Homo sapiens: one gene and its partners. The protein of the gene in region 1 interacts with the protein of each later gene in a biochemical or structural test. Each region holds a gene or a part of one and is shown on either strand. Other genes may lie near its edges.

Region 1 (8,001 bases):
TGAAAAAAAAGTTGTGTGTAGGGGGGAAATAACCAGCATCAGTACAGCAGCTGTTCTTAGTTCTTGACATTACCGTGTCCCAGACTCTTTCATTCAATTGTATTTACTCCAAGGAGTTTTTGTTTGTTCTGAACCATTTTGCTGAGTATTGTTGCTGTCTTAAGAACAATGAACTCCCAGACCCACATGGTTTCATGAGTGAATTCTTTCAGATCTTCAAAGAGCAGAGTTCTTAGGCTATTTAAACTACATCAGAGCGGAGGAAGAGGAACTCTGCCCAGTTCTTTTTAGGAACCAGCATAACCTTGATACCAAAACCTAGCAAAAATAACAGAAAAAGGTGAGTATAAAATGAATCTCAATCATTGATTTTAAATAAAAATGCTACCAAAGGAACCAATATATACTTAAATATTACACCATGACCAAGCGTAAGATTGGTTCACAAACTGCAAATATACTAAAGTAATTCACTATCCTGTTAGGTCAAAGATGAAAAGTACCTATGAAAGGTTATGATAGATGTCAAAAAGCCATTTGACAAAATCCAACTTCCATTCCTGATAAAAATGTTAAGAAGTAATGAATATACACACCAAATGAACATCCAATATCTATTATTTAAAATTGTTCTCAAAGTGCTATCTAATACAATAGACACTCCCCATCCCCAGTTGCAAAAATGACTTTGGATGCAATCCAAACAGTTCTCTGCAAAAATCACAATGAGCTAGAAATATTAAAGGAAACTTCCCTGATAAATATAATTTATTAGATATTAATAGTAACTTCATATTTAATGATGACATAATAAAAACATCCCCAAACTAAGAAACAAGATAAAGGATGGCCAGAATCACTGTTTTATTTACCACTATTCTGGGGAAGCCAGCAATTCACTAAAGCAAAGAAAGAAAGAGATAAGATGAATTATAATTAGATGATTGTTTTCCTAGAAAATTCAAGTGAAACAATTTATTAAAATTAATAAATTTAGAAAGTTGGCCAGATACATAAACACTCATCTACATACCAGTCACAAAATATAAGAAAATATAATGGTTAAATCCCAAAAAGAGTATTTTAATGAAGCATGAACAGTTTATGTTAAATTTTATCTCAAAGATAATGCAATTATATTCAAGAAAATTTTGAAAAGGAAAAATGAAGAGGGACTTGTCCTATGAATTACTAGAAAACGTAATATCAAAGCAGATTGGTATTTTTAAAGGAAGAGACAAAAAGATCAAAGCAACAGATGAGTCTAAAGAAAAGATGCATGTACACTTGAGAATTTACTATATTAAGGAGGTATTTCTAGTCAGTTGGGAGAGAAATGATTTCAACAAATGATTTCAGGAAAAAATGGCTGCCTAGTCATAAAAACAAAGAAAAAAATTAAATCCTTATCTTAGCATACAAAAATCATTTTCAGATGTTTTAATGAGTAAATCATAAAAAGAGAATTAACAGGCAATATAGGAGAAGATTTTAAGAATTTTTGAGTGGGGACTACCTTCTTACCTGAGATAAAAAGCCTGGGCATTTTAAACCAAAGCATTGATAATTCTTGAAAATATTTGCCATATATTTCACAAAGGATTAATGAAATCTGTAGTCTAATGAGAAACAGATAATTTTGAAGAATACTGGGCAATATATACGGACAGGACATAGTAAGTGACAGTTAACTATAATTTGGTACATCTACACAATGCAGTACCACGCCAACATTACAATAAAATAGAGCTACATATGGCAAGACTTTCACCATATATATATATTTAATCTGAAACAGATTATCGAACAGTATGCATAATCTCATTTTCATAAGAAAGCAAAATAACATGGTTATGCACATACAGGAAAGATGTGGAAGGCTTGGATTACAACTGGGGAGAGGACTGAGAAGGATTTCACTTCCTGCTTTGCACATAGTTGTATTATTTGAGGATCCCTCCTCTCTCAAATGAGGACACAATAATTTTTAACAGAATGCACTGCTTGCTTCTCTGCTACCTCTCGTTTGGGTGTGTATTCCAACCGCGGTAAGAAGGCAGGTCATTTTCTTTTCCTTCAATTTCACGTCGCTTCTTCACTTCCTTTACTACCATCTCTCCCTTATTATAACTTGTCAAAAGCATCTCCTGTGAGGTGAGATAAACACCACTTTACATAGCAAGGCTGCTTTACTTTTGCTCGTTATAGCATAACAATAAAGGCACAGCTCTTCTTTGATTATCCTCCCCCTTTCTACTTCTAGAAAAGCACAGCTTTTTTGCCTGTAACTCGTTGCTAGTCAGTTTACACCGGCGTGAGGACTCTACCTAACGCCTGGGTTCCCACTGTGGGCGGGGTTGGCTTCTGTTCTTCCTGCCTTGGCCACCCACTCCCTCCGTGACCCTCTGGGAAGTTACCCAACTTCTCATTGACCAGGCTATGATGACACCCCACAGGAAGGCAGAGGGGAATTGTGCAACCACCTTGGGAAAACAACAGAAAGAACCAATTAAGTTTTCGAAAGAGTAACCACGATACTACTTGATTCTAGGAGGCAGTCTCTCTCCCGAAGGGAAGTCGGGAATGTTCCTGGAGGGTCCACTGCTCACCTCGACACCGCAGGCCCTTCCACCCCCATTTCCCGGGCAAAGCAGCCGGGACGAGTCCCTCCCTTGAAGCCGTTGGGGCAGAGGCCGACGATGCTATGCTGACATCGCGGGCCCGGAAACCAACCCACAAGGAGTCCGCTCCGGGGGAAGGACTCGCGTGGTTTCTCCCGCACAAAATCCCTCCCCAAACTGCAAATTGGTTGTCTCCGCTGCTCCTCGGCTTCTCTCCCTGCGGCGCCCCTACTGTCAGCGCGTCCCTCTCGCTCACGCATACAAATTCTCCGACGTCGTGCTTGACGGATTCGGACACACCAATTCACAAAGTTTCTTACTCACACAGTTCACGCTTTCAGCTGCGTTCCCTCTCCCCTCAGGTCGCCGGCGCCTGGCCGAGTGACTCCAACCGGAAGTTGCATTTTGTTCCAGTTCAGAGGGCAGTGCCTGCGCGCGGAGCCATTAACTCTTCACCTCCACCCAACAAGGCCAGGGCCCTTCCGCCCTGCCCCACCCAGCCCAGGGCTCTTCTGCCCCGCCCCTGCCCGCCCCGCCTAGCGCCCTCCCCCAGCCCTGCCCAGCCAAGTCCCCGCCTCTTAGAAAAAAAAAGCGTCAGCAGCGGAAGAGAATCCTATGTCAAGTGTAAAGGTCACTTGTGAGTCTTTGCTGGATTTTTTTGCCAAACGATAAATAACCGGTAAATAAATAACCAGTAAATAAATAACATCACCCTATATATGAGTTAGAGTACACAAGAATCACCTGAGAAACAAAATGTAGTTTCACCAACCGACTCCTACAGCTTTCATTTCAGAGCAACTGGAGTGAAGCCCAGGAACCTGCATTTTCAACAGATCCTCGTAAATTTATGTAATTAAACGTGGTTAAAGTCCACACTCTGAGAAACACTACATATACACATACCCATTTGGTTTCTCCCCAACTGGTAGTATTTTTCACTAAATGTATTTGTTAAAGAGGAATGGCTGGAAATGGAGGTGGAACTTTATTAGAAAATTTCCCATGAATTAAGACTTTCCCATTATTCCAATTCCTAGCCATGCATGAATATTATCTAAGATTCATATCTTAGATACCGCAAGAAAGATATCTTTTCCCTTTAGGGCAAGAGGATGAGGTCTGGCTGCCCCAATTTCTCCCTGTATTTCTGAATCATGGATGTTTACACATCTTTCCTTAGGCCAGTAAGTCCAAGGATTTAAAAACCTGCCAAGTTGCAGTGCATTCTGTCTAGTTATCTTGAATGTTGCTGTATACTTTTAAAAGTCAAAGCCTAAATATATTTGAAACAATGTTTTTAACAAACAGAAACTTCTTATATATAACGTTTTGACCAGTTGAATAGTTTTCTTGTAATAAGTAATTGAGTTAAACATCACAATACAGTACTGCTTTAAAAAAATTATTTAAACTTTTTTTGAGGGCAGTTTTAGATTCACAGCAAAATGGAAAGGAATGTCCAGAGATTTTCCATATACTTTCTGCCCCGACACAAGCATAGCCCTTCCCCATTATCAACATCCCTCACCCCAGTGTGATGAAAAAAAGCTGTTATAAATATCTGTGTGCAGGTTTTTTTGTGCGGACATAAGTTTTCATCTCCTTTGGATAAATACCAAGTAGTATGATTGCTGGATCATAAGGTAAGAGAATGTTTAGTTTTGTAAGCAATTGCCAAATTGTCTTCCAAAGTGGCTACCATTTTGCATTCCCACCAGGAATGAATAAGAGTTCCTGTTGCTCCAAATCCTTGCCAGCATTTGGTGTTGTAAGTGTTCTGGATTTTGGCCATTCTAATAGATGTGTGTCATATTTTATTGTTGTTTTAATTTGCATTTCCCTGATGACATATGACGTGGAGGATCTTTTCATATGGCTATTTATTTACCATCTGGTTAACTTCTTTGGGGAGGTAAAGGCCTTTGGCCCATTTTTTAATCAGGTTGTTTTCCAAATGTTGAGTTTTAAGTGTTCTTTGTATTTTTGATAAGTCCTTTATCAGATATGTCTTTTGCAAAAAATTTTCTCCTTGTCTGTGGCTTGTCTTTTTACTCTCTTGACAATATCTATTGCAAAGCAGAAATTCTTAATTTTGATGAAGTCCAGTTTATTCAGCACTGCTTGAGCAAATTAAATAAGCTGATTTGAAGATTTCTGATTGAAATAGTGGAATTTAGTAATATACTCAGAGTCTAAAGCTGAATGCATAGGCATTTTGAAATATGGAGGTGCTAAAAACTTTGAATAAGGAAATAGCTAGATATACACATTTCTTAAATGCGTATTTTTCTCTTTCCACTTCCATGATGTTGTAGTCTTGAAGAGAAGTGGCTGCATAATTCCCCTGTATGTGAAATATGCATAAATGCTGGTAGAATTATTTTGTAATCAATGCTAAAATGGCATCAAACATTTTCCTTTTCCTATAATGATGATTTTTTAAGAATTCACATACAGTATGTTTTACAAAGGTTAGAAATTGAGTTGACATTTATTTGAGGAATAATCTTTTAAAATAATGACATAATTTTATTCCAATTTTCCTTCACTCATATTATTATATACCTCAAGTTAGTGAGCAGTGATGTGGCTTTGGAGGTTGGGTATGGTGGCATGAAAATGGGGAACTGACCAGGTGTGGTGCTCACACATATAATCCTAACACTTTGGGAGGCCAAGGGCAGAGGATCACTTGAGCACAGGAGTTTCAGACCAGCCTGGGCAACATAGTGAGACCACGTCTCTATTTAATAATATTAATTAATGAATTATTATTAAAAGAAAATGAGGGAATTGCAGGCCTTTAAAAGATATTTTGGAACCTGGACGGGTGCAGTGGCTCACGCCTGTAATCCCAGCACTTCGGGAGGCCAAGGCGGGCTGATCACTTGAGGTCAGGAGTTTGAGACCAGCCTGGCCAACATGGTGAAAACCCGTTTCTGCTGAAAATACAAAAATTAGCCAGGTTTGGTGGTGCACACCTGTAATCCCAGCTATATGGGAGGCTGAGGCAGGAGGATCACTTGAACCCGGAAGGCAGAAATTTCAGTGAGCCAAGATCACGCCACTGCACTCCAGCCTGGGCAACAGAGAGAGACTCTGTCTCAAAAATATTTTGAATCCTAGTTTTAAAACTGCTTAATAATTTATTGAGACTTCTGAATATAAACCTAAGGACAAGGAAACCTGGCAATATAAACAGTTACTATGACTTGGAATGTCAGTTATGTTCTCAGTCAAATCTTTGATGTGCAATATCACTATTAATGGAATCTGGTTGACTTCTGATTTACGATGACATCTGGACTGGCTGATTATATTGCAGACTCTCCAACTAAAATGGCTATGAAAAATCAGAAAAACATGAGAACTCACAATGGCCTTGGAAGGCAGACTGACAACCAGGGCCACTGTGTATGGTTGAGCAGGCTGTGCTCAGTTGCAAAGCCTTGCCTCCTTCAGCCTGTGTCTTCTCAGAGAGGTGCTTTTTCTAACTCACAGAAAAGTACCATAAGAGCAGCTATAACCCTGTTGACAAGCACCCTAGTTCCAGAATTTGATAGGATACTGGACTTATTGCAAGAACTGTGAAGCTGAAATGGACATGTACTTTTTTGTTGGAAGGCAATCAAAGGTGTTGGTATGGAAGGATAGTAAGGAAGCTACCTGCCTCACGGCCCCTACTAGTAATTCCACTACTATGTGTGATGGCTAAGAAGTATTTTACACCTCTTTGCCCTAATCTCTCCCATTAGTTTCTCCACTCTATGACCCATTTTGGAGCTACGGCCTAGAGAATACCAGCAATAACCCAAAGGGAGTGGATAGGTGTAATGCTCTGTGTCCAAGCTTAGGAAACTAATAATGAAAGGGGTTGGGCAGACAGAACTGGGTGTTTGTTTCTCTGGGGGTTTACTTTTTCATATATGGTTCTTATCAAGAAAAAGACAAATCATTGTTTCTGATTAACCAGGAATTCTTCTCTTTATAGTAAAATAACTAGCTATTAAAGGTAAGGAATCTCACCTCAGCCCAACACCCGCAGTGACAAAGTTGATAAATGTCAGCTTCAAACCAAAAAGTTAGCTGTTGACTGTGCATGTCTATATGTCTTCCAGTTCAACATCTATGCTGAAGAACTTAATAGCATCAGACAGATAATGAGAAGAGCCAAGAACCAAAATCCACACATTCAGGTAGTAAGGTTGACACAAGGCTTGGAACGAGTAATTCAAGAGAAAGCATCCCTTTGAAAAGATTATGCTGTCTGAAAGAGAGTCTTCAAAATACAAAGAAAGTGAATACTTTGGAAAATTATTTACCAGAAGCAGAAGTATATGGAGAGAATCTGCTTTGTATTTTCTATGCAAAAAGAGATGAAATACATGATAAGCTATTAGACTAAGATAAGGAGGGAACTAGAGACAAGGTGAAATAAAACCAAAGTTGGATAAGTTAAGTCTGTAAGGACACAGAACAACATGCAATGGCAAAATTCACATATAATTTGGACATAATCAAAGATGGAATCAGTATTGCAGAATAATAAATCAATGATTAGAGTAAAAGCTTGAAAAACTCTTCCAAAATATGACTGGAAAGTACAAATAGGTGACAACCATTAAAGGAAATGGTAGAAAGATTATGCCCCAACTTCTTCCTGAAGAAGAAATTGGGGTAAATAGAACAGAGACGGCAACCACAGATATATCAGAAGCTATCTGAAGTAATACTTTGAACCAATACAATACTTTGTAAAAATGAAAAGGACTCAATGTGTTTTGAAATATATTAATGACCTATCTTGTTAAAAATTTCAATATTAAATGCCCTATCAAGTCATTAATTTAATCAGTGAATATTTTGGGAATATTTGCTATGTGCTAAGAATTAGGGATAGAAAGATCACTAAGACACTGTCCTACCTTTAAAGAACTTGGTGTCTATACTGGGTGACATACATACAAGAATCAGGCAATTACTATACAATGTGGTATTATGATTTTTACATTAGGGGTAATATATGGTACTCTGAAAACACATTGGAAAGTCCATCATCCAGCCTTGAGAGGGTGAAGGAAGGCTTCTGGTATCTAAGTTATGGAAAAAGTTCGACAAGAATCCAGGTGGAAAAAAAATTAATTGCAAAGGAAGAAAAACTTGTCTTCAGCAGTAAACTTCAAAAGCTGAATAGAATAACATCTACAGTTGCCTGGGAAAGATTTGACCTATAGTGTCTGCCTACTCAAGTTATCATTTATTCAAGAAAAGGAAAACAAAGACATTCTCAGATACCTCAAGGTTCAAACATCATACCACCCATTTTCTGAAACAATTGAAGATATGCTTCCCTTATTCGAGAAGGAGTCAAAATTAA
Region 2 (7,022 bases), on another chromosome or scaffold:
ATCAAGAAATACAAGCAACTTTTTAAAAGTTTTAGAAGAAGATATTTTCTTTTAACCAACAATTATTTTTGAAACTTGAATTGAAAAGTTGTGCTGGAATCAGCATAGCTAGAGCACTAGCTTTGTGTGCAGCAATGAAGAGCCCACCACCTGAAAGCCAATTCACACATGGCTTCATTTACAGACAACAGCTGGCTTGAGTCATTGTTAATAACTGCATGGAAAATTGTGAATATAATTAAAATTGCAGCCCTTGAATAGGTATCTTCAGCATGTTAAGAATGCAGCGGCAGGCTGGGCACACAGTGGCTCATGCCTGTGATCCTAGCACTTTGGGAGGCCAAGGTAGGTGGATTGCTTGAGCCCAGGAGTTTGAGACAAGCCTGGACAACATAGCAAGACCCAACCTCTATTGGCGGGGGGGGGCGGGGGGAAGCAGCAGCAGCAAATACTCTGTTTTTCTGTTTTGTCAAGAGGAAATATGCTAACAATACCTACTCAAATGAAGGATATACTTTTTTTTTTCTTTTTTTGAGACAGAGTCTTGCTCTGTCGCCCAGGCTGGAGTGCAATGGTGTGAGCTTGGCTCACAGCAACCTCTGCCTCCCAGGTTCACGTGATTGTCCTACCTCAGCCTCCCAAGTAGCTGGGATTACAGGCGCCTGCCACCACGCCTGGCTAATTTTTGTATTTTTAGTAGACACAAGGTTTCACCATGTTGGCCAAGCTGGTCTTGAACTCCTGATATCAGGTGATCCGCCTGCCTTGGCCTCCCAGTGTTGGGATTACAGGCGTGAGCCACCGTGCCCAGCGGATATTCATTTTTTTTTATAACACTGATGTCATTAAAACATATCTATGATTTTAAGCGGCTAACTCAAGTGCCATACCTCTATGACAGACAGTATAGTGACCAGCTTGAACATATCATTTGAGAGTAAAATTATAATTCTCTCTTTTATTTAAGATTGGTTTCACTCTGTCACCCAGGCTAGAGGGTAGTGGCGCAATCATAGCTCAATGCAGCCCCAAACTCCTGGGCTCAAGTGATCCTCCCAGCTGAGCCTCCCGAGTAGCTAGGACTTACAACAGGTGTGCTCCATCACACTTGGCTAATTTTTTTTCTTTTTCTTTTTCTTTTTTGTAGAGAGACAAGGTTTTGCTATGTTGCCTAGGCTGATCCTGACCTCGTAACCACAAGCAATCCACCCACCTGAGCCTCAAAAGTGCTGGGATTACAGATGTGAGCTACCATGACTGGCCACAATTCTTTTTTGTTGTTCAGACAGGGTCTCACTCTGTCTCCCAAGCTGGAGTACAGTGGCGCAATCACAGCTCACTGTGGCCTCCACCTCACAGGCTAAGGCAATCCTCCCACCTCAGCCTCCTGAGTAGCTGGGACTACAGGTGTGTGCCACCATGCCCAGCTAATTTTTTTTTGTTATTTTTGGTAGAGATGGAGTTTCACCCTGTTGCCCAGGCTGGTCTCAAGCAATCTACTCGCCCCAGCTTCCCAAAGTGTTGGGATTACAGGTGTGAGCCACTGTGACCCGCCACAATTTTTTTTTTTAGCACGGCGTCTCGCTCTATCTCCCAGGCTGGAGTGCTGTGGCGCTATCTTGGCTCACTGCAAGCTCTGCCTCCCGGGTTTACGCCATTCTCCTGCCTCAGCCTCCCGAGTAGCTGGAACTAGAGGCACCTGCCACCAAGGCTGGCTAATTTTTTTGTATTTTTAGTAGAGATGGGGTTTCACTGTGTTAGCCAGGATGGTCTCGATCTCCTGACCTCGTGATCTGCCAGCCTTGGCCTCCCAAAGTGCTGGGATTACAGGTGTGAGCCACCGCGCCCGGCCCGGCCACAATTCTTAGTAACAAAATATGCAGACTAAATAATGATACAAATGGCTTAACCAAAGAGTTTTACTCTTTTCTTTTTTCTTTGAGATGGAGTCTCGGCTCTGTCGCCCAGGCTTGTGTGCAGTGGCACGATCTTGGCTCACTGCAACCTTTGCCTCCTGGGTTCAAGCAACTCTTCTGCCTCAGCCTCCTGAGTAGCTGGGACTACAGGCACACGCCACCATGTCCAGCTAACTTTTGTATTTTTAGTAAAGACATAGTTTCACCATATTGGCCGGGTTGGTCTCGAACTCCTGACCTCGTGATCTGCCCGCCTCTGCCTCCCAAAGTGCTGGGATTACAGGCGTGAGCCGCCACGCCCAGCCAAGATTTACTCTTTTCTAACAACTAGGTAGACTTAAAACCATATTCAATTACTGCACTAAACCTGAAAACATATTTCCTAGAACTGAATTCAACCAAAAGGACAGATCTACACATTGCCATCTCCAAAATTAAAATACTCAACTTTGCTTTCGAGTGCCATACACTTGTCAACTTGATGTAGTTTTCAGTGAGAATTCTTGTAATAATTTTTGTGTCCATTTGAATATCTAAAACATCTAATAGAAATATTTAATTGTTGCTCTTCCCAACTCTATAATTCAAAGGTGGGGCTATCTAATTTAGTACAACTAAGAGCAAGAAAAGAAATCAGTTAAATATGAAACCTTAACTTGGACTTTAGTGAGTCTTTCACCATTCATGTGGTGGTACAATAATGTGAACAATCATTGCTTTTCCTGATACTGATTTAAAAATACTTCTTTGATCTTACAATAAAAACATTTTGAATTATTCTTTTGTGTTTATCTAAAATCAGTGGTATGCACTGAAGACCCATCACATGGTCCACAAATTCCAAATGTTTGAAAACACTACTTTCTCTACTACACTACTTCCCCTTCAAAGGAAGCTATCATTTCTTCCTGTGCATGTTAGAGAAAAACAGAGAACCAAGGACATTTTGTTTGCCCTTATTATTAATCTTCTCATATTAGAAAAGCACTTCATTATCTGCATTTATGTTGCCACATTTTCAAAAACATTGGTCTGATTTCAGTATGAATAGCACTTATAAAAAACAATATATATAATAATTATTTCCAATTTTTCCTGAATTCCCTCTGCCCCCAAAGACATTCTTTCCTTATGACCTTCCCAGAACCCAAGCTGCCTTCCTATACCTCTTGGTTACAGTCAAGGGTTATAAAAAAATGTTTAACAACTGGCATGGTATAAACACCAAACCAAGAGATTGACACCAATTTATAACTGTATGGCTGTAATGGAACAGGCTCACTAAATATCAGCCTTAGTTATACTGCTGCTAAAGAAGCAGCCTTAGAATGCTTCTTGTAAGCAGTCTGCTATACTTTTTTTCCATGCTAGGCCTGTTCTCAAAGATCTTTGGTTATTTCTTACCTGCCACTTCACAGAAAAGGGATAGCAGGGTTCATGAAAGAAACCACATAAATTGGATTCCAAAGATGAGTTTAACGTCACATCTTATTAAATATTTAATTTCTCTACTTTTATTCCTTAAAAGGAAGAATTAAGGAGAAGTATTAGAACATACTACTGCTTTCTTTCTCTTACACCGTCTCCAGATAATTAAGCTAAGTTAGTTTTTTTTTTAAAAGTCAGCTTTTTATTAGAGCTTTGTTATTCAATTATATCCACACAGGTATGCAAGTTCTTTCTCCTTTCTATCAAACAGACAGTTAATACACAGGCAAATGGATAAATTTGGGGATATATTAAGGATACTGTAAACTGTTAGCAAAAGAAATAAATGTCTGACATTCAGAGAGGAAACAAGAGAAAGGGAATATAGAAATTCACACCCTAAAAAAAAGAGGTGGTTCATTTTAAAATGAACTTATAAAGTTATATATAATAACATCAACTATATCTGTGTTGTTTTTAAAGATATTCTTACCCAATTTTGGAAAAACTATTAGGTATTCAGCATTGCACTGAGGACATGCCACTCTGGCTGTACTGTTTCCTCTTTGCTTTTCATCCACCCAGCGTTGTAGACAGGCCTGGTGAACCCATTTTGTAGATCCTCTGCACCTGCATGGTCTCACCCATTCAGCTGTTCTATCATCTTCATCAGTAGCAAAACAAACCCAGCAACTTCTGTAAATTAAAAGAGAAAAGGATGACATTTATATCTTTAGGACTCCAGCCTCCTCTATACTGCAGCTCTTACTTAATGGGATGAGCCTGCTATGTTATATTACAGAATCTCTGTCCTATATTAAAAGACTAAGGAGACAAAACAACCAATACATTCCCACTAGAGCAGTTTCTACTTTTTCTGTTTTTCCTTGTCTTCCTCTACAGAACTTATGTTTTCTGAACTTTGTTTTTATGTAATCTCCTCTATCTTTTCAGTAATTCTTCACCTTCTCTAATGAACCAGAGTGCAAGGAGACAAACCTCAAGTTGTTTTTGTTATAAGACCTAATAATTCTTTGAGGAATAGTAAGCACAGTAATATATTAAATTCAGTGTTCTCCCCAGTTCACCACCACCAATCCCTTGAACTTGGAAAAACAAAGTATTACACGAGTGATTTCACATACAGTCTCATTCCATTTTTCAGCTGAGGAAAAAAAAACCCATTTTTCTTTCCGGTAAAGTATAAACATGAGAGAAAACAATATTACATTTTCAAAAAAGCACAAAGGAGATAAATATATCAAGATTTTTTTTTTTAGAATAGCAATATGATAAATTTGGGCGTGTATGCTTGAAATCTGAAATCTAGAAGTATCAAGTCTGGGGTGCTTATATTAATAAAAATAAAATTCTATTGAGATCGGTAATTTTAAAACATTTTCCCACTTTGCTTTTAAGGGTACTTCATGAATTGTAATTTTTTCTTGTGGAATTAGGTTGTAATTCCTCAGTTTTTCTCCCAATTAACACAAGTTTTGACATCGATTTCCATCAGGGCAAATACAGTTCAATTCAATGAGACCCTTCGCTCCTCCCCTCCATTAGAACTTGTACAAGTGGAAACAACTGCTAATTAAAGCATGTTACCTACTGTGCACTTTTTAATTAATTGGATAAGTGGCTTCTGTCAGAACAACTAGCTTAACTATGCTCAGTGGGAAAGACTATATACTCAGGTATTATAGATGGGTGAGGTTCTCCAGTCCTTGTGGAACAACATGAATTTCAATTGTGTGCTCCAATTACAATTTTTCAATTAGAACAGAAAAAAAGTTGAACTGAATCCAGGGCATCAATATCCAAAATAGTTGTTTTATTCAGCTTTCAAATTCAGTCAGGTTTCATAAGATCTAAGTAAAATTAGAACGTAGGTAGCATTTGTTTAGCATTCTGACCCTTTTGACCCACTTTAGCTAAGCTGTCTGGGCCTTCACATTGTCTTATGGTTGTCCAAAAATACTTTGTTCTTTTTTAAAAAATTTTATCGTCAAATAGACATAGCATAAAATCTACCATTTTAGCCATTTTTTAGGTGTATAATTCAGTGGCAGTAAGTATATTCATACTGTTGTGCAACCACCAAGACTACCCATAGTAGGACTGGGTTCTAACCTATGATTTTTGCATAAAATTTCAATTGGTAAGTATACTAGCACACAGGCTGGTTAAGATGTTGTTAGTATATATTTTTCCCCACAACTGAGGTAATTTTGTGGACATATTTGTATACATCTAGGAAATGGAATGTATCATTTTAGCAACAAAATACTGGCAGAATATTTAGAGACTCTTTAGTCTCATACTTTCTTAACACAAACGTAAATAAGAATAGCTACATCAGCATAATTAATCAGTATTATGGTGAATCACATTTTAAATTAATCCAATTTCAGTCATCAGAAAAATAAAATACAATGTTAGGACTAGGTTGAACCAACTGAAATAGTCTACATTAATCTGTTTCTGACTTACAGAAAAGATAGGTCAAATTTCATATTTTGATCTAATGAGAATACTTGTGTAGCTATTATATTCCTTATAAATTCTAGATAAGGTTTATTTTTCCCAAACATTTTATTATGAAAAATTTCAAACTTTCCAAAAAAAGTTAAAAACTGTTCAGTGACTACCCATATACCCAACATTTAGATTCTATAATTCTTATTCTGCTATATTTGCTTTCTCACACATCCATTCATTATTCTTATTTTTTGCTGCATTTCAAAGTTGCAGGCATCAGTATATTTCAGTCCTAAATACTTGTACAGATTTACTTTTTAGAACTGACATTTAAAGCATGCACTTGGCCGGGTGCCGTGGCTTAAGCCTGTAATCCCAGCACTTTGGGAGGCTGAAGCGGGCGGATCACAAGGTCAGGAGATTGAGACCATCCTGGCTAACACGGTGAAACCCTGTCTCTACTAAAAATACAAAAAAATTAGTTGGGCATGGTGGCGGGTGTCTGCAGTCCCAGCTACTCAGGAGGCTGAGACAGGAGAATGGCGTGAACCCGGGAGGCGGAGCTTGCAGTGAGCCAAGATCGCGCCACTGCACTCCAGCCTGGGCAACAGAGCAAGACTCCGTCTCAAAAAAAAAAAAAAACAAAAAACAAACAACGCACGCACTTATGCACTTTCAGTTTTTTTTCTAATTAATTTCACAACTATGGTAAATAAGATAGCTGAATGATGATTCAGAGTGCGTACTTATCAGGAGTTAGGCTTTCAGTTGAAATAGCAGTATTAGAGGCATGTGAACCAGAGCAACTCCGTCTTGATTGAATAGGAGCTGGGTAAAATGAGGCTGAAACCTACTGGGCTGCATTCCCAGATGGTTAAGGCATTCTAAGTCACAAGATGATATATGAGGTCAGCACAAAATACAGGTCATAAAGATACTGCTGATAAAACAGGTTGCAGTAAAGCCAGCTAAAACCCACCATAACCAAGATGCTCACGAGTGACCCCTGGTCGTCCTCACTGCTACACTCCCACCAGCACCATGACAGTTTACAAATGCCACGGCAACGTCACGAAGTTACCCTATATGATCTAGAAAGGGGAAGCATAGGCTGGGCGCGGTGGCTCATGCCTATAATCCCAGCACTTTGGGAGGCTGAGGAGGGCGGATTATGAGGTCAGGAGATCGAGACCATCC
Region 3 (7,440 bases), on another chromosome or scaffold:
TCCTAGAGGAGAAACAATCTGCATTCATTATTGGAAATTCTTCTGTAAGGAAGACTTGCCTCTTCTCCCCCAGTAGGTTATTGATTCAACAATTTATTTATATCAGGGCTGGGTATGGTGGCTCATGCCTTTAATCCCAGCACTTTGGGGGACCAAGGTGGAGGACTATTTCCGGCCAGGAGTTCAAGACCAGCTTGGGCAACATAGCGAGATCCCCATCTCTACAAAAAAAATTTTTTTAATTTGCCAGGCGTGGTGGTGCACAACTGTAGTCCTAGCTACTCAGGAGGCTGAAGCAGGAGGATCGTTTAAGCCCAGGAGTTCAAGGTTACAGTGAGCTATGATCACGGCACTGCACTCAAGCCTGGGCGACAGAGCAAGACCCTGGCTCTGAAAACAAAAAAATTATTTATATCAGTATAAATATTTATTTTATACTTTAGGTTATAATTCAATATTATCCTATTATTTATTCCCTTGCTCAGTTGCTCCAGCTTTGGCCATAGGGAGCTCTTCTGGCTCCTGGATCCCTTTGACGCACTCCCATCCTTTTGTGTTTTGAGCGCTTCCTAAATCCCTGGCACCACAGCACACTGCCGGCTCATCCTTTCCCTGTCCCAGCCCTAAAATCAGCCATCTCTCCAAGGAAATAATGTATTTTTAATACAAGTTCTCCAATTATCTTGTCAATAGTCCAAATATATTGCACCGCATTTGAATGCATGATTTAAAAAAAAAAGAGTTAATTTGTTCAGTTACCGTTTAAAACATACATTGATTTTTGTAGCCCTGCTGTGACATGTCTTTTTGAAATATACCAGGAGTCTGGCCGGGAGCAGTGGCTCATGCCTGTAATCCCAGCACTTTGGGAGGCCAAGGCGGGCGGATCACGAGGTCAAGAGATCGAGACCATCCTGGCTAACACGGTGAAACCCCGTTTCTACTAAAAACACAAAAAAATTATCCAGGTGTGTTGGCAGGCACCTGTAGTCCCAGCTACTGGTAGTCCCAGCTACTCGGGAGGCTGAGGCAGGAGAATGGCATGAACCTGGGAGGCGGAGCTTGCAGTGAGCTGAGATCGCGCCACTGCACTCCAGCCTGGGCGACAGAGCCAGACTCCATCTCGAAAATAAAAAATAAAAAGAAATATACCAGGAGTCTCAAACATGGGAGGGATCTGGTCCTTTCTTCACTTCTAGGAGGCCTTGTTGAATTTAAACATCACCTCAGCAGCCACTCCCTTAAGGCTTGAGGGCAGCCTGCCCAGCCTTTCTACAGAGGTAGCCCAGTTCCCGGGTCCTCCCCAGGCTGAGCTGCCCAGTGAAGCAACTGAAAGCCAAGGTCATTCCTGGGACCTTTCCCTCTCCAACCTCATCTCCCAACCCCCCACCACCCTCAGGCAGTGACCAGTCCACAAGCTTTGCAGACCCCACCTACGCTGGCTGGGCACAGGCAGATAGATGGTGGGAGGCCAGGCAGGCTCCAAGAAGGAAATTAGCCAGCCCAGCTGCCAAGACAGGCATACGAGAGGCAGAGGGGTTTGTGTGGGCTCGGCTTCAGAGAACTCCTGGGGATTAGGGCCAAAGTTTGCAAAATCCAGCTGTAAACGGAGCAGGGGTTCCCCAAAGAAGCCGTGGGTTCTGTAGAGGAGAGTCGGCTTCTTGGGAAGTAGCATGAGCCGGAAGACAGCGAGACTGTGGCTCTCTCTGGGAGGGCAGGGAGCAGCATGACTCATCGCCTAGTCCTGCTGGCTCCTACTGGCACAGGGCTGGGCAGCAGAGGGTCTGGGAGCAGGAGCAGAGTCTGGTCTTGTTGCAGCTCCAGAGGAGGTCTCAGGCTGGCAAAGACAATCTAACACGTTGGGACATAGGCAGGGTGTTGTGGGGACACTTAGGAGGGTACAACCAGCATCAAAGGAGTCTTGGCTGGCCTCACAGAGGAGGTGACATCATCCAAAAGATGAATGGAACTGGCTAGGAAGCAGCTGGGTGGGAGAGAGGGAAGGGCACTCCAAGCCAAGGAAGAAGCAGAGCAGAGGCCCGAAAGTGTCTGCAAGGCGCTAGCTGGTGCCTGCCACCCAGTGAGCACTCTATAAATGGGAGGCATTATCTCTATGATTGATTAGTATTGTCATTATCATTATTAACCTGGACACATCACTTAATGTTTTTACTATCTTAAAGGTAGTTGCTATAGCGAATAAATGCTTAACATAACTGAGCTCTTCTCATCTGTAAAAGGGACTGTTGTGAGGTTAGGGGTGCCGCCGGCACCGCACTCAGCTGGAGTGACAGCAAGCATGTGAGGTGCCCAGCATGGGATGTGAGCTGGCATGCAGCAGGGGGCCTTGTGTTTCCTCTCTCCTTGGGTTGCCAAGCCCCTGGAGCTGCTGTGCCTGGGGAGCAGAGAAGGGGACACTTTGGGGTCTTCAAAGATGACCAGGCAACAAAGCAGGAACACCGCTAGGTAAGAGCAAGCAAGCCCAGAGGAACAGCCTCAGGGTCCAGATAGAGACGTACACGCCTGCCTCCCTGGGGTCTTTGGTGGCCTCCCGAACAAGCAGGTGTGGATGGGGAGATGGACTGCCTTGGAGAGAGCTACATGAGTTCCAGCTCCACCAGCCCCCAGAGCCTGAGCAGGTGACTTCACCTTTCTGAATCTCTGAACATCCATTTCCTCCACTGTACAATTTCATTAAGATACATACAAGAATATCCAAAGCACAGTCTTTGTAATAGAAAAAAAATCCTAGAAACAACATCCAACAGCAGGTGACTGAATAAGTAACCAGTGGTATATTCATAAAATGGGACACTATTCAGTAGTAAAATAAATTACAGGTATGCAGGCAATCAAAATGGATTTTTAAAAATATAATGCTGTATGAAAAAGGAAGTCACATAATTATGGAATGACTCCGTTTACACAAAGTAAAAAATAGCAAAACTATACAATATCCCACTTAGGGATGCATACAGAGGTGGTAAAACTACAAGAAAAAGCAAGAGAATGACTAGCACAATTAAAGTTCAGGAAACTAGTTCTTCAGGATGTGGGCAGGAGGCTGTGATGGGGGCACCCAGAGGGCCTCAAGGTACTGGCACTGGTCTATTTTTTAAGTTAGGTGATGGATACATGGCTTTTTTATTATTACTATTATTCTTTAAGCTGTACATGTACAGTTGTGTCTATGGTGTCTTTTACAATAAACAAGTATTTATTATAACACTAGCACTTATAGGATACATGCCTATGATGAGGTAGAGAGAATGTAACAAAGGACTGGCACATAGTAAGCACTGGTGGCATGTGGCTCTGTCCTCCAGCGTGTGGGCTCTGTGTTTTCTCTCTCTCTCTCTCACTCACACACACGCACGCACACACACACACACACATAGGAAGCCAGGCTCCCCTCTGCCCTCAGTCACTCGTGGTTCACAAAAATGGCAAATAATAGGAGCACTAGAATAGGAGCTCTCCATCCTGGTTCGAGTCTTTCCAGCTGGGGCAGTTTAGCCTTTGCAGAATTTCTCAAGGGTAACATCAGCATAATGACCTCTGTCTGTAAGCCCGTGAGTGTAAGCCTGTAAAGTGCTGTGCTCATGCGAGGGATCAGGTCTGACCTGGGAAACTAAAAGCATCTTCATGGAGCAAGGGTGCTCCTCCAGTGGGGGCGCTCAGTGAGTTCTGCGGTATGGGTGACAGTATTCTTGTGTGGACAGTATTCATGTGGTGATTGGGGTAAATGGCCCTCTTTTGCCTGGTTTTCTGCCTCGGTCATTGTGCATCTGCTGACTGAACCTGCCTTTTGGTCCTAGTAAAGTACAGATTTCAGGAAAAGTGTACCTGGCCCCGGGGGTGGCCAACCTCTGTGTGACGGCTTTAAGCACAGTGTGTCTTGAGGGGGCCTGACTCCATCTGAAAAGTGCCTGTCTGGATGTACCTGTCTATAACCATGGACCTGCCTCCAAGGTGCGTGGACCAACCTCCGCGTACCTGATTCACTCGATGCGCACCTGGCCGTACGTAGCTTCATCAGGCAGGGTGTACCTGTCAAGTTCTTAGGTCCGAGTGTTCGCGGCTTTACCTGTCCTGGTACCGCCGTCCGCACCTCGGTCAGTGCGTCCCCGGCAGGTGCGTGTACCTGATTCAGTCCGTGCTTATCTTGCGCATACGGGCCGTTCAGTGTCCCGCTCGGAGCTCGTCGCCGCCGCAGCCTTGAGGCTCCGACCCCCGCTTGGGCCCCGTCCGGCGCGCAGCGGCCGCGGGGGCGGGGCCGCGACGCGAGGAGCGGAGCAGGAAGGGGCGAGGCAGCCCCGCCCCCGGGGCGGTCTCCCGGGACGGCCCCGCCCCTTGCCCGCTTCCGCGTCAGTGCCTCACCACCACCTGCCCGCGCGCCGCCCCATATAAAGGCGCCGCCGTCCTTACCCCCAGGACTCGGCCCCATGGAGACGCCGCCGGCCGCCGCTGGCGCATGGCGGGGTGAGGCGCGGCGGGGAGGGTGCGGGCCTCGGCGGGGAAGCGGCAGGGAGCGCTCCGGCGGGGTCCGAGCCGAGCCGAGGGGAGGGGACGGGAGGGGACGGGAGGGGTGGAGAGGGGAGGGGACGGAAGGGTCGGGGTCCTGTTCCCCGGCCCGCCGGGCCTCAGGACCCCTCCAACTTTGCCCAAGTTGGGAGAGCCGGGGAAGAGCACCAGGTTCCTGATCGGGATCGCGGGCCGAGCAAGCGCGGGTCTCGGGCCGGGACAGCCTCGGCGTCACCAGCTCCCGGCAGCCAACCAAAGTTTTCCAGCAACTTTTCTCCCCACGGGTCACCCCAGAAACTTGCCCTCCCCGGCTCCGGGAGTCCGGCCATGGGCCTTGCGCTGCCTGGGCCTGAGCTCTGAGTGCCGGACGGGTGGGCGAAAGTGGTGGCCTCAGTGGGGAAGCCTTGGGCCCCGCAACGCACTTCCAGCCCCAGGATTCCATCTGAGAGCCCCGTCCCTGCCTTCTGGGTCCCCTGGGTTGGCGTGGGGGTTCGAGGCTTTACAGCTGGGGTAGTTCCAGTCTTAGTTCAGACTAAGTTCCGATCTTCGAGCCACCAGCTAACAGCTGGATGACCTTGAGCACGTTTTTAATGTCTGTGCCTCAGTTTCTCCCTTTATAGAATGGGAATGGGAATGCCTAGCTGGGAGAGCTTTTGAGAGGACAACCTGAACTAATAACACGATGCAGTGTGTAGTGCCACCAATCCCTCATCCTGCTGGATGTGGTTTTGGGAGGGAGGTTAGGAGAGAGCGCTATTCACCGTCCCTAACCCTGTTGGTTGTTCAGTAGGAGCTGTGGCGCGGGGCCTTCCAGGAGTCTGAGCTATGAGTGGCCCCTGTGGAGAGAAGCCTGTCCTGGAAGCCAGCCCCACCATGAGTCTGTGGGAATTTGAGGACAGCCACAGCCGTCAGGGCACCCCAAGGCCGGGTCAAGAGCTGGCCGCTGAGGAGGCCTCGGCCCTGGAACTGCAGATGAAGGTGGACTTCTTCCGGAAGCTGGGCTATTCATCCACGGAGATCCACAGCGTCCTGCAGAAGCTGGGCGTCCAGGCAGACACCAACACGGTGCTGGGTGAGCTGGTGAAACACGGGACAGCCACCGAGCGGGAGCGCCAGACCTCACCGGACCCCTGCCCTCAGCTCCCTCTAGTCCCGCGGGGTGGTGGCACCCCTAAGGCTCCCAACCTGGAGCCTCCACTCCCAGAAGAGGAAAAGGAGGGCAGCGACCTGAGACCAGTGGTCATCGATGGGAGCAACGTGGCCATGAGGTAAGTGTCACTTCTGTGGCCAGGACACATGAGGTTCGCATCTCTCCTGTGGCCAGGACACATGGAAGGATGACTGTCTCTGCAGCTCTGGTGGGCTGGAAGAAGTGACTTCCTTCTTAGGGACTGGTCTAGAGGGAGGGAAAGCCTTTTATGAGGCTAGGGTCGCGCTACTGGTAAGTGACAGAGGCAGGGTTCCAGCCCAGGTCCCTCTGTCCGCAGAGCTTACCTTATGCTGTGGGTCCCTCCCTGAGGCCAGCACTGTGTCTCCACTCCTCTCCTGTAATGTGAGGCAGGGCTGTAAAGGGGACCAGCCCGTGGGCAGCTGCTCACTCACCCCTCGGAACCTGATCTCAGGTGGGTGTTGTGAGGAGGGAGTGTGCGGATCCCGGAGAGGAGCAAGCGTTCAGGAACCATAGTAGTGGTAGTAGGCAGTGGTAGTAGCAGTTGTTGTTGTTATTTCAGGGGCTGGGCTTCTGAGGCCTTCTTGTCTCAGACCTGGGCTCCCACGAAAACAGGTCCAGTGACTGTGTCCAAGAGTGACCTCAAGGCTGGGTCCAGCTTTACATGGGTTGTGGGCAGGTGGCCTGATGCTCTGGCCTCAGGCGAGCTGCAACTTGGATCCCTACTGACTCAGCTGAAGCAGCCTGGGCTGGACCAGTCTCTGGAGGTTCCCCGGGGCCAGAGCCAGGACTCAGCCCCCAGTGACTCCCACCCCCATCCCCCAGCACAGGAATGGGGTGGGGAGGTAGGGGCAGAGAGGGAAGCCAGGGCTGCTGCTGACCTTGGGAAACCCAGACTTCTCCCGTCAATCCAGGCTCCACCCTCTGGCCCCACTTTTTTCCCAGTTCCCTCCAAGGCAGGCTGATGAGTCAGTGCTGGGTGGATGGCTCACAGGGAAAAGTTCCTGTTGGCATGGACGGGGAGACCCCAGACACAGGGTTGAGAAGGGATGATTTTCTGGCTGCCCTGAGGGAGCTCCTAGGTGGGCTGCCCAAGGCTGGCATGACATCAGCCTCTGCCCTCCCTAATTTGTGGCCCCTGTGGGACAAGTTCACTGTCCAGCTGGCCCTGGCCCAGCTCAGCAGGCATGCAGCTGAGTGCTCTTCCCTCCTTCTGTCACCTTCAGGCCAGTCTTCCTCTCTCTGACTTGGGCTGAGCCTGGATGGGAGGCTGAGAAAATCCAGTTTCCATGCCAAGAGGCAGCAGGTCACAGCCCATGCTTCGAGATTAGAAGGGGTCCCTCTCAGTGTCCAGCCTCATGTAGCTGGGCTAGGAGCTAGGTTGGATCTGTGTGACTCCTTCCTCTGGAGGTATGGGCCAGGAGCGGCTGAGCCCTGGGAGCAGCCATATGCAGTATGTGTTTGTATCCAGAAGGAGGAGGGACATGGGAGGAGGGGCTGTGATGAGGGGTGCTCAGAGGAGCCTGCTCCTGAGAAGCAGAGCCACGCACCCACCTCGGGGGTTTCTGAGCTGGGGTAGTGGCAGGAGGGGAATTCCAGCCTCAAACTTCCTGTCTCAGCTGCTACTCGGTTCCTGCCCGGCCACCCCCCCTCCCCAGGGGCAGGCGGGCTAGCCCCCCCATCATATGCAAATCATGGGGAAATTCACCTCTGTTTCCTTCTAAGGGAATTTTTTTCCACTCGCCAGG

The links. Proteins that work in one complex are often made in the same cells at the same time.
Region 2: of the proteins of TANK (region 1) and MARCHF5, one has a biochemical effect on the other in vitro, tested with the Homo sapiens proteins (one study listed by BioGRID).
Region 3: the proteins of TANK (region 1) and ZC3H12A form a complex in vitro, tested with the Homo sapiens proteins (one study listed by BioGRID).

The regions. Positions count from the first base shown.
Region 1 is NC_000002.12:161,155,431-161,163,431, reverse strand, and holds the start of TANK (TRAF family member-associated NF-kappa-B activator), read right to left. Parts: upstream 3,005-8,001; 5' UTR 2,946-3,004; exon of another isoform or gene 2,882-2,945; coding exon of another isoform or gene 2,610-2,881; intron 2,484-2,609; exon of another isoform or gene 2,145-2,483; coding exon of another isoform or gene 2,020-2,144; exon of another isoform or gene 71-2,019; coding exon of another isoform or gene 1-70.
Region 2 is NC_000010.11:92,308,153-92,315,174, reverse strand, and holds part of MARCHF5 (E3 ubiquitin-protein ligase MARCHF5), read right to left. Parts: intron 4,041-7,022; coding exon 3,838-4,040; intron 1-3,837. UniProt on the Homo sapiens protein: Mitochondrial E3 ubiquitin-protein ligase that plays a crucial role in the control of mitochondrial morphology by acting as a positive regulator of mitochondrial fission and as an important regulator of immune response.
Region 3 is NC_000001.11:37,470,148-37,477,587, forward strand, and holds the start of ZC3H12A (endoribonuclease ZC3H12A), read left to right. Parts: upstream 1-4,432; 5' UTR 4,433-4,482; intron 4,483-5,311; 5' UTR 5,312-5,349; coding exon 5,350-5,792; intron 5,793-7,440. UniProt on the Homo sapiens protein: Endoribonuclease involved in various biological functions such as cellular inflammatory response and immune homeostasis, glial differentiation of neuroprogenitor cells, cell death of cardiomyocytes, adipogenesis and angiogenesis.